Regions from separate parts of the Homo sapiens genome. Here region 1 is linked to region 2. The links come from fine-mapping of genetic effects on gene expression. Tissue or cell type: whole blood. Region 2 holds a variant in brackets; the other region holds the start of a gene. All regions are shown on one strand. Distances are from middle to middle.

Region 1 (8,102 bases), 85 kb after region 2:
CTGTAATCCCAGCACTTTGGGAGGCCAATGCGGGTGGATCACCTGAGGTCAGGAGTTTGAGACCAGCCTGGCCAACATGGTGAAACCCCATCTCTACTAAAAAAAAATTAGCTGGGCATGGTGGCGGGTGCCTGTAATCCCAGCTACTCGGGAGGCGGAGGCAGGAGAATCACTTGAACCCAGGAGGCGGAGGTTGCAGTGAGCCAAGATACGCCATTGCACTCCAGCCTGGACAACAAGAGCGAAACTCTGTCTCAAAAATAAATAAATGTGTAGTGCAGCCTGGACAACATGGCAAGACCCTGCCTCTACAAAAAATAAAAATCGGCTGGATGTGGTGGTGCATGCCTGTGGTCCCAGCTACTCAAGAGGCTGAGGCAGGAGGATTGCTTGAGCCCTGAAGGTCAAGGCTGCAATGAGCTGTGTCGTGCCACTCCACTCCAGCCTGGGCAACAGAGTGAGACCCTGTCCCAGAAAAAAGAAAAATCCATACTGGTGTAAACCCGTATCCAGATTGACTCTTCTCTTAACAAGGACACACTTGGCGTTAGTATGGATCTAGCCTCAAAGACCCTCGTCACAGATGAAGCAGCCCATCGTGACCAGTCGAGGCCTTAGGACCGCAGGAGGAATGTCTCAGGATGAGGGTCAAGCACACTGAGGGTGTGGGCTGGAAAAAAGGGATCTAGTTGTTTCTTCCTAGTCTCAGGAAGCCAGTGCCCCAAGGGTTCACACCTGGTAAGTGTAGGCGTCCTTGGATATGGGCTGTAGAGGAACAGTTTGAATCCAGGTGCCGCCATCTAATAGCTATGTGACAGCAAATTTCTTAATCTGAGCCCTGGTAGCCTCATTTAAATTGGACATAATGCCACCTACCTGAGGATTTGTAAAAGGAAAAGAGAATAAATGTCTGTTACATCATAAGCATTATGATGCCTGTAATTATAATGTCAATGAATCTTAGTTCCCTTTATACACTCAAGGGGATCAGAAGTGACAGGCTGTTGCCCCAGCAAAGTCCCACAGAAGCCAACCCTTATTCGGTGCTTGGGGTTTCCCAGGCTTTCCCCAAGGTAGTTGGTATTTTGGTATTTTCCCCTGCTTAAATGGCCCTTACTGCCGAGGCCAGGCAGGTAAGAATCTCCATGTCTGGAAAAAGTGGAACCTGGGGCAAACTGCAAGCTAAGGATAAGGAGCTTGGCAGGAAAGACGCTAAGACTCTAACAGGAAGTGGAAGGGTGGACTTGGAGGGGGAATTGAAATCAAGAAAAGGAAATAGCCCTAGCTGCTGCCTCAGCCTCCTTGAGGGGAGCTGATACTTGGAGTTGGTTGCCGTTAGGTTACCCTCATTTGGAGTAGTACTGATGAGTGCTCGACCGAAACCTGGGTCTACTCTGGTGGCGATTTTGAGTTCAAGCAGTGCTGCCCCCTACTGGGGGTTGCTAAAAGCACTGCCATTTCAGTGGGCGGGGGGTGTTGGTTCTTTTTGGTTTTTGGTTGGTTGGTTGGTTGGTTGGTTGGTTGGTTGGTTTTGAGACAGAGTCTCACTCTTCGCCCAGGCTGGAGTGCAGTGGTGCGATCTTGGCTCACTGCAACCTCCGCTTCCCGGGTTCAAGCAATTCTCCTGCCTCAGCCTCCGGAGTACCTGGGACCACAGGCCTGCACCGCCACACCCAGCTAATTTTGTATTTTTAGTAGAGGCAGGGTTTTTCCATATTGGCCAGGCTGGTCTCGAACTCCTGACAGGTGATCCACCCACCTTGGCCTCCCAAAGTGCTGGGAAAACAGGCGTGAGCCACTGTGCCCAGCCCACCCTAACCTTTTTTTTTTTTTTTTTTAACAGATGAGCGAATTAAAAGGTTAGGCGATTTTTTTTTTTTATTATTGGAGACTTGCTCTGTTGTGCAGTGGCGCAATCTCGGCTCACTGCAACCTCCCCCTCCTGGATTCAAGCGATTCTCCTGCCTCAGCCTCCTGAGCAGCTAGGATTACAGGTGCTCACCACCACACCTGGCTAATTTTTGTATTTTTAGTAGAGATGGGGTTTCACCATGTTGGCCAGACTGCTCTCAAACTCCTGACTTCAGGTGATCTGTCCACCTCGGCCTCCCAAAGTGCTGGGATTACAAGGATGAACCACCGCGCCTGGCTCTGATTTTTTTTAATCATCTTTATTTTGAGGCAGGGTCTCACTCTGTCGCCCAGGCTGCAGTGCAGTGGCGCCATGAAGGCTCACGGCAGCCTCAACCTCCTGGACTCGAGCAATCTTCACACCTCAGCCTCCTGAGTAGCTGGAACCACACAACATGTACCACTGTGCCCAGCTAATCTTTATTTTTTGTAGAGACGGAGTCTCACCACGTTGCCCAGGCCTCAGCCTCTTAAAGTGCTAGGATTACAGGCATTGAGTGTGAAGTGTTGAACAGCGGCTCAGGGAGGCCAACCAGGGTCCAGCAAACCCCGTCCCTGCTGCCTCCATTGGTCCAGAGCTGGTACCCGCAGCCAGCATGACACTCACCCAGTCCCAGACATTGTGGGTCAACAGAGAGAAATTCAGATAGCTAAGAGAATGGAAGCGGACAAAGGAGGCACAGGAGGATTCCATGCCAGAGTCTGAATTGGTCACCCCCATTCAGGCTCTGCCTGAGGAAAGGAGAATGGGGTCCGGGCACAGTCAGCTGGATGGAGCGTCTGAAGACGGCTTGCACCAGAGCCCTCCGTGGCTGAAGGGAGAAGCTAGGGGGTGAGTCAGCCCCAGGGCTTGATGGAACAGACAGGAACTAGATGATCTAGGAAGGGAGAAATGAGGCTGAGCAGGAGACAGCCCAGGCTCCCTGGCTGCCACTACCTAATCTGTCCCCCTTCACACACATCCCACACACAGTGTTTAGACAGAGCAGCAGAGAAGAAACAGACATCCTGGATCCCACAGGGAGCAGGCTGGGGCTGGGAACAGGAGGTCTGTTTATTCCTGGAAGTCACATATCAGAAGGGTCCCACACCCACTTCTGTCCAGGCCCCAGGCTGAACTCTCCCAGAGCCTGTGACTTCTGCCCGACCAGATCCCGTGGTTCTGAGGACCGGCCCTGGAACCCTGCGTCCTTCCGACCCACCAGCTCCCTCGAGGATGGACTTGAGGCTGGATGCTTTCCTCTTCCCACTTTTTGTCCCAACAGAAGTCCCTGATCTCCAGGATCCCTGACTGGCTGTGCAGAGCTGGCACAGCCACACTCCACGGGCTTCCAGCCCTTCAGGCCCAGCTCTCCCGGAGAGCACCAGAGTCCCTTTGCTCCATTTACTTGCGCTCTTCAGCCAGCAAGTGTTTCCTAATGTCTCACCCCCAGTCCCAGCTTTCCTGCTGCAATTTCCGCCTGTTCCCTCCCATTTCAGGCCTTAAGGGAGTGTGGCTGGGCTTCTCTCCTCCCCCTCACTCCAAAGCCGCACTTGATACAAGGTGGAAATCAAAGCACCACTTCTGGCTTCCCAGCCTTGAACTTGCCCTTCCCTCTCAATGTATCTGGTTTCCTCAGCTTCCCTGTGCAGCAAGAGTGTCACTCCCCTCTTGCTTTTCCCAAGCTCCCCATGCGCCCCTCTCAGCAGATCTGTCTTAGAGGGGCCAGGTGCAGAGAAAGGCAGAAATCCTAATAATGTTCCCAGCGATCGCTGCCTGTCGCGGAGTGCTGAAGGGCCAAGTGTTGATCTGAGTCCTCATCACACGGGACTTCATTTAGTCTCACGATAGGTGAGTACAACTATGGGCCCCATTTGACAGATGAGGAAACTAAGGCAAGGGAACTTTAGTCATTTGCCCAAGTTCACTGGCTTTTTTAAAAAAGGATCCAGACAGCTCTGATTCCAGCGCCAGCTCATGCCTCTTCATCATGGGGGAGGAAAGAGAGGGAGCCATTTGTTGGGGCAAACCCCCACCCATCAAGGGCCATGCACTGGGGTATATGCCGCCATATGTGTTATCCTGTGATATTCCCCACCACGACCTTAATTAGAGGTGGTTTTTCTTGTTCCCATTTTAACACAGGCAAAAACCGAGGCCCAGTAGTACCTTACCCATGGTCACATCCCCAGAGCCATTTGTCCCTCATAGTTCAGAACTTGACTCAGAAAGCAGTTGAGAAAAGTGTGGAATGACCCCAGATTCAGGAAGGCAAGTCTGGCCTTAGAAACTGAAAGGCCCATCAGGTGATGGGATGGGGGAGTGAAGATCCTCAGGCCCCAAACACCTGCCACTGCCACCATCACACACGGAAGTGTGGAGGGAGCCTGGTGTGCTGTCAGCTGGCTGGCCAGTCCAGGGGCTTAAATGTAAATGCATCAGCTGAGGCGGGAAGTCGGGAGGGGTAAGTCAATCATTATTATTCATTAACTGGAATGCATTTCTCAGATTACTCCGAGCTGGAGTAGGGAAACTGCCACCTAGGTGGCAGGGGGAGAGGGGAACTGGGTGGGAGGGGGAGGCAGGCCTCCCAGTTGCTGCAGTTTGGAATATGTCAGGTCCCACCCTCCCAGAGGCGGGGCCAGGGCTGAGTCCTGCCAGCCTCATTTCTCTATCCCTCTGAGAACCCAGACGGGCAGAGCCTGGGTAGGAGAGCCTGGCCCCGCTGTCCCCACTGGGTGGAGACACCATGCACTTGGTCCACTTGTGCTCTTCAGCCAGGACACCAGACATGGTCCAAACCGCTGCAGGGCTGGCTGCAGCAACTCCCTGACACTCAGGAAGGCCCAGGCTGGGCAGGCAATACCTGCTCCCAACAGCCATGTGAGTAGCTACTCCCCCAAACCCCCAAACCCCAGATCCTGGAGAGGCTACTACACCCAGCCCAAGCCACCAGACCCTCGGGGGTGTGCAGGTGGTACAGCCTGCACCCTGCTGGGAAATCACCCCTGGGGGCTGCTCCCTGCCTTTGTCGCTGTTCTAGTGGAGGTGGGTTGGGGGGAATCATTCCGATTAGGGCTGGGAGCTCCAGCTCAGGCCAGGTTTGGGGTAATGGACCCTGAGTCTCACGGGACTTAAGAGAGTTGATGATGCCCTGGGAAAGGGAACAGAAACTGCAAGGCCTCTAGAGAGGAAAAGACATCCTGGGTGGAGGGCACTGGAAGAGATTGAGAAAGAGAAAACATGCTTAGGGGAGGGGAAAGGGGGCATAAGGCCTTGGAGGCCCAGGCTCAGGGTGCTGGGGGAACCTGGGAAGGAAGGGGAGCATCTTCCTTCCTCTCAGCTCAGGGCAGCCATGGGGCCCTGATCCCCTGTCCTGGAGGAGGGGAGAGGTATGAATCCTTTCCTTATTGACTTGGATCCTAGCAACAGCAGCTGCTCCCCTGTTGACAGAAGCAGGAGTTCCCACAGGACCCAGGACCCCTCCCCCTGTCCCCAGGATGTGGCAGCAGAGCCATGACACTGGAGGACTGAGACCAGGGAATGACGGGAAGGACAGGGACAGATGAGAGCCACAGAGAAGCCAGACTCTGCCCAGACTCCTCTTCCCTCTCCTCTGGGCTCAGCCTCAGGCCTGGGGGTGTGGGGGAGTCCCTCTCCTTGCTGCTGGCATCTCCACGTTCACTGCCACACGTGCCCTCCAGCTGCTTCTCTCCTCCCTCCAGCTCCCAGGAAGGACCCTGTTGCTAGTGTGGAGCAAAGACGAGTCAAGTTTATGGGCTGGAAGTCCTACCCGGAGGCTGCTCACTGAGCTGTGATGGCTACAAGGACAGATGGGGGGAAGGGTGCAGGGTGCCCGAGACCTGGCCCGCTGGAGCCTGTCACCTAATGGCTGGCTGGAAGACCACTACACACCAGCCAGCCCTGGTCCATTCTCTCATTTAGAGGCCTCCCCGGTGGAGGCAGGGATACACAAAATGCTTTGGGGCTGGATGGGCCCGCCTTTCAGTCTAAACAAGAGACCTCAACACAGCTGCCCAGAAAAGGCAGATACCAGAAATGGATAAAGCTGGCTGGGTGGGGACTGTCCGAAGGGCAGCCAGCAGTGAGCTCCGGCTGGTTGCTACCACACAGGACATATGTGTTGCCAGACCTGAATTTTCAATAGAAACCAAAGATAGTTTTTTATATAAATGTTTAATTGGCAATTAATTGAAAAATTCTGTGTATCAGCGAACATGATACAGCCCACAGCCTGCGGGTCTGCGCCCCTGGATTAACATGCTGCCCTGCCAGGAGGACACGACCTGCAGCCCCATCCTAACTCTGGCCACCCCATCCTGCAGGCATGCCGGCTGCCGCTCCAGGACTCCCCTGTCCCCAGGACCAAGATGACGCCCAACAGCACTGGCGAGGTGCCCAGCCCCATTCCCAAGGGGGCTTTGGGGCTCTCCCTGGCCCTGGCAAGCCTCATCATCACCGCGAACCTGCTCCTAGCCCTGGGCATCGCCTGGGACCGCCGCCTGCGCAGCCCACCTGCTGGCTGCTTCTTCCTGAGCCTACTGCTGGCTGGGCTGCTCACGGGTCTGGCATTGCCCACATTGCCAGGGCTGTGGAACCAGAGTCGCCGGGGTTACTGGTCCTGCCTCCTCGTCTACTTGGCTCCCAACTTCTCCTTCCTCTCCCTGCTTGCCAACCTCTTGCTGGTGCACGGGGAGCGCTACATGGCAGTCCTGAGGCCACTCCAGCCCCCTGGGAGCATTCGGCTGGCCCTGCTCCTCACCTGGGCTGGTCCCCTGCTCTTTGCCAGTCTGCCCGCTCTGGGGTGGAACCACTGGACCCCTGGTGCCAACTGCAGCTCCCAGGCTATCTTCCCAGCCCCCTACCTGTACCTCGAAGTCTATGGGCTCCTGCTGCCCGCCGTGGGTGCTGCTGCCTTCCTCTCTGTCCGCGTGCTGGCCACTGCCCACCGCCAGCTGCAGGACATCTGCCGGCTGGAGCGGGCAGTGTGCCGCGATGAGCCCTCCGCCCTGGCCCGGGCCCTTACCTGGAGGCAGGCAAGGGCACAGGCTGGAGCCATGCTGCTCTTCGGGCTGTGCTGGGGGCCCTACGTGGCCACACTGCTCCTCTCAGTCCTGGCCTATGAGCAGCGCCCGCCACTGGGGCCTGGGACACTGTTGTCCCTCCTCTCCCTAGGAAGTGCCAGTGCAGCGGCAGTGCCCGTAGCCATGGGGCTGGGCGATCAGCGCTACACAGCCCCCTGGAGGGCAGCCGCCCAAAGGTGCCTGCAGGGGCTGTGGGGAAGAGCCTCCCGGGACAGTCCCGGCCCCAGCATTGCCTACCACCCAAGCAGCCAAAGCAGTGTCGACCTGGACTTGAACTAAAGGAAGGGCCTCTGCTGACTCCTACCAGAGCATCCGTCCAGCTCAGCCATCCAGCCTGTCTCTACCGGGCCCCACTTCTCTGGATCAGAGACCCTGCCTCTGTTTGACCCCGCACTGACTGAATAAAGCTCCTCTGGCCGTTTATGATTATCTCATTCCATATCTCAGGGCGAGGCAGGAGGAAATGGCTCAACACACCAACAATAGAAAGAACCTACAGACATACGCGTGGATTAAGGCAGAGTCCGACTCCAGGCAGGCAAGAAGTGTCGTGCGCACAGACCACCCCTGGAGATGGGGAGCTGGCACATCTCAACATCCAGCCGATTCTGCGGGACAGCCTTGCCCTGACGGGGCCCTCGCTAGCTCCTCCTAGGGTCCAGCCATCACAAAATCCACACAGACTCTGTCTCTGGGAAGTATATTTTATTTACATTTTTAAAATCTTTAACTAGTATCTCTTCCTCCTTTCCACCCCCAGAGACTTGGGAAGGGAAAGAACGGGAACCTCAAACACCTACTCCCCACATACAAATACACACCCCATGGCTCACACCAGCAAATGAAAGTGAAAGAGAAACAGGTCCACCCCTCCCTCTGAAGGGCCCACCAGGTCTGGACAAGGGTGGGAGGGCCCTGGGCTGGGTCTCTAAAGAGAAGAAAAGGAGAGGGGAGCAAGTCAGTTGAAGAGGCTGGAAAGTCATCCAGGGCCCCACCCTCCTCTTCCCTCTGTGCCCTACTGCCTCTGCTGGCAGACAGGGGCAGGGGTCCCTTCGTCCCCTCAACACCAGACACACAGGCAGGGGCTGCAGCCATTAACGGTCAGG
Region 2 (8,102 bases):
CCTGAAAGAAAGAAAAATTAAAAAAGGAAAGTGAGCGTCTGAGCACTCATCTGAAGGAAACGCTCCGGAATGGATTCAGAAAATCCGCATGAAGGACCCAGAATTCCTTGCTTTGAAGTCAGACAGACCAGGATGGAAATACTGGCTCTTCTTTACTAGTTTGTGATCTTGGGTGGTGATAGGAAAGCATTTTTCTATTCTATGCAGAACACCCAGTGCCACGAAGAAAGCCGTGACAGGTGCAGCCTGAATGCCAGTCAACTGGCAAATTGTGGCATCTCTTAACATTTATCAAAATATCCTTATCTATAAAAACGGGGATAATAATACTTACCTCTCCAAGCTGTTGTGATGATGGAAGGCTTGAGCTCCAAACCAGCTGGTACAAATCCCAACTCTGTCCCTGGCTAGATGTGTGCCCTTGGGCAGCTTAGATGCTCACTCTGTGCCTCAGTTTTCTCACCTGCAAAAGGATAATAAAAGTAGGACCTAGTTTATAGGATTGGCATCAGGATCAATTAGTTAATATATGTAAAGTGGTTGGCAGATAATAAGTGTTCAGTCACTTTTAGTTCATCCTGGTCTGGCTGGCTCCAAAGCAGGGAATTCTGGGTACTTCATGAGGATTTCTGAATCGATTCCGGAGGATTTCCTTCAAATGAGTGCTCAGATGCCCACTTTCCTTTATTTTTCTTTCTTTCAGGACAGGACATCACTCTGTCTCCCAGGCTGGAGTGCAGTGGAGTGATCATAGCTCACTGCAGCCTTGAACTCCTGGGCTCAAGCGATCCTCTTGCCTCAGCCTCCCATGTAGCTGGGACTATAGGTGTGTGCCACCACAACCAGATAATTAAAACACTTTTGTAGAGATGAGGGTCTTGCTATGTTGCCCAGGCTCTTATGATCACTTTATTTATTTATTTATTTATTTATTTATTTATTTATTTATTTATTTTGTACACAACCCCCATGGTCCCGTGGGGGAGCTGTGTATCGAACACACCAAAAAATGCAGAACCTTTGATGCTGAAATTCCACTAAAAGAGGGAAGGGAGGAAGGGAGGAAGAGGAGAGAGGGAGGGAAGGAAGAAAGGAAAGAAGGAAGGAAGGAAGGAAAGAAAGGAGGAAGGAAGGAAAGTAAGTTTATCACAGGGTTGTTTATAATAATAAAACAGCAATAATCTCAATGTTCTTCAAAAAATGTTTATACAAATTATACTGGATTTATAAAATGGAATACCATGCTTCTATTTAAAATAATGTACAGCTATAATTAATGCTATAGAAAAGTGTTTGTAATAGGATGCTAAGTGGCAATAAAGATTAAAAAGTAGAATGTACAGTATTACATTTTGTATCAAATACATATATGTGTATGCACAGGGAAAACACGGGAAACGTAGTCAAATGTTAGCAGGGGTTATCTTTGGGGATTGTAGATATTTGGGATTGTAGATATTTGCTTCCTTGCTTATGTCTTTTGATGTTGCTCAATCTTTAAAATAAGCATTACTTTTGCAATCAGAAAAAAAAAAAATACACACCAGGCGCAGTGGTTCACGCCTGTAATCTCAACACTTCAGGAGGCTGAGGTGGGTGGATTGCTTGAGATCAGGAGTTCGAGACCAGCATGGTCAACATGGTGAAACCCTGTCTCCACTAAAATTACAAAAATTAGCTGGGCATGGTGGCGTGTGCCTGTACTCCCAGCTACTTGGGAGGCTGAGGCAGGAGAATCGCTTGAGCCTGGGAGGCAGAGGTGAGCTGAGATTGCACCATTGCACTCCAGCCTGGGCAGCAGAGTGAGACTCGGTCTCAAAAGATAAAAGAAAAAAAATACATATTTAGCCATTTTCATAAAAAAAATCAGTAAATAAATACCACTGTAGCAGTCATTCCCAACCCCTCACTCCAATTTGCCTGCACAGCTCTGTTTGTGAGCAGACGCCCAGGACTCTGAGCTTCCGTCCCACTGGGCTCCTCCCTCCTCAGCCCTGAAACCTGCAGGCTTTTTTGCCTCTGGGCTCCCACACCACTTAGTTCTCCACTGCTGCTGTTTTCTCAGACTGTTTTATGCTTATTTCTAGGAGTCTTTGTCTCACACTGGACTATGAGTAGGCAGGACTCAGGCACAAAGCCTGGCACCTGGTCATGATTCATAAAGCTCCCCTGCCTTCTCTCCTGGCCCCTCCTGAAGGCCAGAACTGTAAAGGATTCTAGTTTGCATCCCTGGTGCCCAGCAAAGTGTGTGACACAAGGAGGGGTGTGTGACCTCTGCAGGTGCCTGGGACCTGGGCTCAGAAAAGCCCCACCTTAGCGTCTGATATTCTACAGTCGCTGTCTTATAATTCTTAATAATTTTATCTTGGAATGTGTGTTTTATAAGTGAAGTCAGCCAGGCACAGTGACTCATGGCTGTAATCCCAGCACTTTGGGAGGTCAAGACTAGAGGATCACTTGAGCTCAGGAGTTTGAAATCAGCCTGGGCAACATAGCAAGATCCCCATCTTGACAAAAAAAAAATTTTTGGGGGTGCCGGGCACGATGGCTCAGGCCTGTAATCCCAGCACTTTGGAAGGCCGAGGCAGGTGGATCACGAGGTCAGAAGTTCAAGACCAGCCTGGCCAACATAGTGAAACCCTGTCTCTACTAAAAATACAAAAACTAGCTGGGCATGGTGGCGCGCACCTGTCATCCCAGCTATGCGGGAGGCTGAGGCAGGAGAATTGCTTGAACCTGGGAGGCAGAGGTTGCAGTGAGCTGAGATCGTGCCACTGCCCTCCAGCTTGGGCGACAGAGCAAGACTTCGTCTCAAAAAAAAAAGTTTTTTTTTTTAATTACAAGTTAGGAAAAAAACATGGGAAGTCCACTGGGTCATGCACAGATACTGGGAGCCTCAGTTCACATGCTGTCCCACCTCTGTTGCCTTGAGGGATGAGGTCTCAGCTACCCGCTCCCCAGCCTCAAGACCACCGTAGTCCTCGCTTTCATGCCCGTCCGTGTGAAGAGACCAACAAACAGGTTTTGTGTGAGCAATAAAGCTGTTTATTTCACCTGGGTGCAGGTGGGCTGAGTCCGAAAAGAGAGTCAGCAAAGGGTGGTGGATTATCATTAGTTCTTATAGGTTTTGGGATAGGCTGTGAAGTTAAGAGCAATGTTTTGCGGGCAGGGGTGGATCTCACAAAGTACATTCTCAAGGGTGGGGAGAATTACAAAGAACCATCTTAAGGGTGGGGGAGATTACAAATTACATTGATCAGTTAGGGTGGGGCAGAAACAAATCACAATGGTGGAATGTCATCAGTTAAGGCTATTTTTACTTCTTTTGTGGATCTTCAGTTACTTCGGGCCATCTGGATGTATACATGCAAGTCACAGGGGATAAGATGGCTTGGCTTGGGCTCAGAGGCCTGACATTCCTGCCTTCTTATATTAATAAGGAAAATAAAACAAAATAGTGTTAAAGTCTTGGGGTGGCGAAAATGTTTGGGGGGTTGTATGGAGAGAGAGTGGGCGATGTTTCTCAGGGCTGCTTCAAGCGGGATTAGGGGCGGCGTGGGAACCTAGAGTGGGAGAGATTAAGCTGAAGGAAGATTTTGTGGTAACGGTTGATATTGTGGGGTTGTTAGAAGAAACATTTGTCATTTAGAATTATTGGTGGTGGCCTGGATACGGTTTTGTATGAATTGAAAAACTAGATGGAATAAGAGAAGGAGAAAAACAGGTATAAAAGGTCTAAGAATTGGGAGGACCTAGGACATCTGATTAAAGACTGCCTAAGGAGATTCAGCATAGTCCTGCCAGCAAAGATTATTTATTTACTTCAAGAGTTAAGAGTGGCAGTTTGGGGATAGCATGAGGAGATATCAGCTGTGATGGCTTGGAGAAACAGTGTAAACTGGCAGTGTAAACAAGAGCAGGGCATGTATGAGTAGTTGAGAATGGTGGATAGGAGTATGAGTAGACAGAAGATAGTATGGTTGACAAGTTTTTTTGGGGCACAGTCTAAGTTGGTCTGGTGTCTGGAATGAGACTGGGGCCTAATAAAAAGGAGCTTCTATACAGGAGCTTAAATGGGCTGTACCTTGTAGCATTCTGAGGACAGGCCTGACTTCTGAGAAGGGAAAGTGGTAAAAGTATTGTCCAGTCCTTTTTAAGTTGGTGGCTGAGCTTGGTGAGGTGTGTTTTTAAAAGACCTTTAGTCCGTTCTACTTTTCTTGAAGACAGAGGACCGTAAGGGATATAAAGGTTTCACTGAATACTAAGAGCCTGAAAAACTGCTTGGCTGATTTGACTAATAAAGGCTGGTCTGTTATCAGACTGTATAGAGGTGGGAAGGCTAAACTGAGGAATTATGTCTGACAGAAGGGAAGAAATGACTGTGTGGCCTTCTCAGACCCTGTAGGAAAGGCCTCTACTTATCTAGTGAAAGTGTCTACTTAGACTAAGAGGTATTTTAGTTATCTGACTCGGGGCATGTTGAGTAAAGCTAATTTGCCAGTCCTGGGTGGGGGCAAATCTTCAAGCTTGATGTGTAGGGAAGGGAGGGGGCCTGAATAATCCCTGAGGCGTAGTAGAATAGCAGATGGAACACTGAGAAGTTATTTCCTTGAGGATAGATTTCCATGATGGAAAGGAAATGAGAGGTTCTAAGAGGCGGGCTAGTGGCTTGTGCTATAGCATAGCCTGCCTTTGCTGGTGTGTGGCAATTAGGCCTGGTGGAATTGCCATCAATAAATCAAGTGTGATCAGGGTGAGGAACAGGAAAGAAGGAAATATGGGGAAATGGGGTGAATGTCAGGTGGATCAGAGAGATACAGTCATGGGGGTCAGGTGTGGTATCAGGAATAATGTGGGAGGCCAGATTGAAGTCCGGGCCAGGAACAATGGTAATTGTGGGACTTAACAAAGAGTGAATACAGCTGAAGGAGCTGGGGAGCAGAAAGTATATGCGTCAGGTATGAGGAAGAAAATAGATTTTGGAAGTTATAAGAAATGTAGAGAATGAGTTGAGCACAGTTTGTGATTTTTAGGGCCTCTAAAAGTATTGAAGCAGCGGCAGCCGCTGCACGCAGACATGAG[G/A]GCTAGGCTAAAACAGTAAGGTCAAGTTGTTTGGACAGAAAGGCTACAGGGTGCGGTCCTGGCTCTTGTGTAAGAATTCTGACCCCACTAACCATGCCTAGGAAGGAAAGGAGTTGTTGTTTTCTAAGGGATTGAGGTTTGGAAGATTAATCAGACACGATCAGCAGAGAGAGCACGTGTGTTTTTATGAGAATTATGCCGAGATAGGTAACAGATGAGGATGAAATTTGGGCTTGACTGAAGTAATGGGGGCTGTCTGTGAAGCCTTGCAGCAGTGAAGCCCAGGTAATTTGCTGAGCCTAATGGGTGTCAGGGTCAGTCTAAGTGAAAGCAAAGAGAGGCTGGGATGACGGGTGTAAAGGAATAGTAAAGAAAGCATATTTGAGATCCAGAACAGAATAATGGGTAGTAGAGGGAGGTATTGAGGATAGGAGAGTATATGGGTTTGGCACCACAGGGTAGATAGGCGAAACAATTTGGTTGATAAGGCGCAGATCCTGAACTAACTTGTAAGGCTTGTCTGGTTTTAGGACAGGTAAAATGAGGGAATGGTAAGGAGGGTTCATAGGCTTTAAAAGGCCATGCTGTAGCAGGCGAGTGATAACAGGCTTTAATCCTGTTTAATCCTGTTAAAGCATGGTTTAAACCATGCTGTGGGATGGGATCTTGGCATTGAGTGGGGTAAGGGTGATTAGTTTTTAATGAGATGGTAAGGGGTGCCTGATCAGTCGCCAAGGGGGGAGTAGAGGTATCTTATACTTGTGGGTTAAGGTGGGGGAAAACAAGAGGAGGATGCAAAGGAAGCTTTGGATTGGGAAGAAGGGCAGCAATGAGATGCGGCTGTAGTCCAGGAATAGTCAGGGAAGCAGATAATTTGGTTAAAATATCTTGGCCTAATAAGGGAACTGGGCAGGTGGGGATAACTAAAAAAGAGTGTGTAAAAGAGTATTGTCTAAGTTGGCACCAGAGTTGGGGAGTTTTAAGAGGTTTAGAAGCCTGGCTGTCAATACCTACAACAGTTATGGAGGCAAGGGAAACAGGCCTTTGAAAAGAAGGTAATGTGGAGTGGGTAGCCTGAGTATTGATTAAGAAGGGGACAGACTTACCCTCCACTGTGAGAGTTACCTAAAGCTCGGCATCCGTGATGGTCTACGGGGCTTCCGAGGCAATAGGGCAGCATCAGTCTTCAACCGCTAAGCCAAGAAGGAGTCAGTCAGAGAGCCTTGGGCCAGAGTTCCAGGGGCTCTGGGAGTGGCTGCCAGGTGAGTTGAACAGTCAGATTTCCAGTGGCATCCTGCACAGATGGGACACGGCTTAGGAGGAATCCTGGGCTGCAGGCATTCCTTGGCCTGGTGGTCAGATTTCTGGCACTTGTAGCAAGCTCCTGGGGGAGGAGGTTCTGGAGGAACGCCTGGCCGCTGCGGTTCAGGCTTTTGGAAGTTCTTGTGTGCTGGAGATGTGGCTGGGGTTTGTCTCACAGTGGAGGCAAGGAATTGCAACTTTTTTTTATTATTGTACACCTTGAAGGTGAGGTTAATTAAGTCCTGTTGTGGGGTTTGAGGGCCAGATTCCAATTTTTGGAGTTTTATTTAATGTCAGGAGCAGATTGGGTAATAAAATGTATATTGAGAATAAGATGGCCTTTTGACCTTTTATGGTCTAGGGCTGTAAAGCATCTCAGGGTTGCTGCCGAGCAAGCCATGAACTGGGCTGGGTTTTTATACTTGATGAAAAAGAGCCTAAATGCTTCTGATTTGGGATAAAGAAAAAGGAGCATTAACCTTGACTATGCCTTTGGCTCCAGCCACCTTTTTAAGAGTAAATTGCTGGGCAGGTGGGGGAGGGCTAGTCATGGAAGGAAACTGTAAGCTGGACCAGGTGTGAGGAGGGGAGGCGATAAAAAGATTATAGGGTGGAGGAGCGGAGGCTGAGGAAGAATTGGGACCTAGCTTGGCCTGGCGAGGAGGGGAGAGGTCAGATGGGTCTGTAGAAAAGGAAGATTAGAAAGACTCAGCGACGCTTGGGGTTGGGACTGAGGGGACAGGCGGGAGGGAAAGAAGGAAGATTTGGGACGAGTTGCACTGGGGACAGAGACTAGGAAGGGACTGATGTGTAAAAGAATGCCTGGACGTCAGGCACCTCAGACCGTTTGCCTATTTTACAACAAGAATTATTTAGATCTTGTAGGATGGAAAAATTGAAAGTGCCATTTTCTGGCTATTTGGAACTACTGTCGAGTTTGTATTGGGGTCAAGCGGCATTGCGGAAGAAAATAAGATGCTTAGATTTTAGGTCAGGTGAGAGTTGAAGAGGTTTTAAGTTCTTAAGAACACAAGCTAAGGGAGAAGAAGGAGGAATGGAAGGTTGCCCATAGTGAAGGAGGCAAGCCCAGAGAAAAGAGTAGAGACACGGAGAAGGGGTGGGGGTTTCTTGCCCTCCAGAAAAGCAGAGAAAGGGTTGGGGCACGGAATTAAGGGATTGGGGGTTCCTGCCCCCTAGAAAAGTGGGACTTGCCACTAACGGTGAAGGAGAAGGGGTTGAGGGGTTCTTGCCCCTGCCCCAGAAGAGCAAAGAAAGGGTAGAGACACAGAGAGAAGGGGTTGGGGTACTTGCCCCTCCTCCAGAAAAGCAGGACTTGCCGCTAAGGGTGAAGGAGAAGGGGTTCAGGGGTACTTGCCCCTGCCCCAGAAAATCAGAGAAGGGGTAGAGACATGGAGAGAAGGGGTTGGGGTACTTGCCCCTTCTCCAGAAAAGCAGGACTTGCCGCTAAGGGTGAAGGAGAAGGGGTTGAGGGGTACTTGCCCCTCCCCCAGAAAAGCAGAGAAGGGGTAGAGACACGGAGAGAAGGGGTTGGGGTACTTGCCCCTCCCCCAGAAAAGTGGGACTTGCTGCTAAGGGTGAAGGACCAAGGCAGGTGTCCCTGCGTGGTCTGACACCTTTGAAACGTGGGTGAATAATCAGAGAGGTGTCTCTGCAATGATTAAACACCAAAGGAAGGCTGCCTTCCCAGTCTGTGACCG

The links. PIP is the estimated chance that this variant, and not a neighbour inherited with it, causes the effect.
Region 1: GPBAR1 starts here. The variant in region 2 is fine-mapped to the expression of GPBAR1 in whole blood (TOPMed, PIP above 0.99).

What each region holds. Positions count from the first base shown.
Region 1 is chr2:218,256,443-218,264,544 of GRCh38, forward strand. GPBAR1 (G protein-coupled bile acid receptor 1) reads left to right here and starts at 4,573. Exons shown (of 2, transcript NM_170699.3): 1 at 4,573-4,774; 2 at 6,238-7,419. The coding sequence starts at 6,283. The coding sequence ends at 7,275. AAMP (angio associated migratory cell protein) reads right to left here. Exons shown (of 11, transcript NM_001087.5): 11 at 7,687-8,102. The coding sequence ends at 8,091. RefSeq lists enhancers at 5,020-5,825, 7,749-7,928.
Region 2 is chr2:218,171,033-218,179,134 of GRCh38, forward strand. No RefSeq gene overlaps it. Among named protein-coding and RNA genes, the nearest start is that of CXCR1, 8.1 kb to the left of the region's middle. RefSeq lists an enhancer at 3,832-4,331. The variant G/A (reference allele first, on the strand shown) is at 5,083.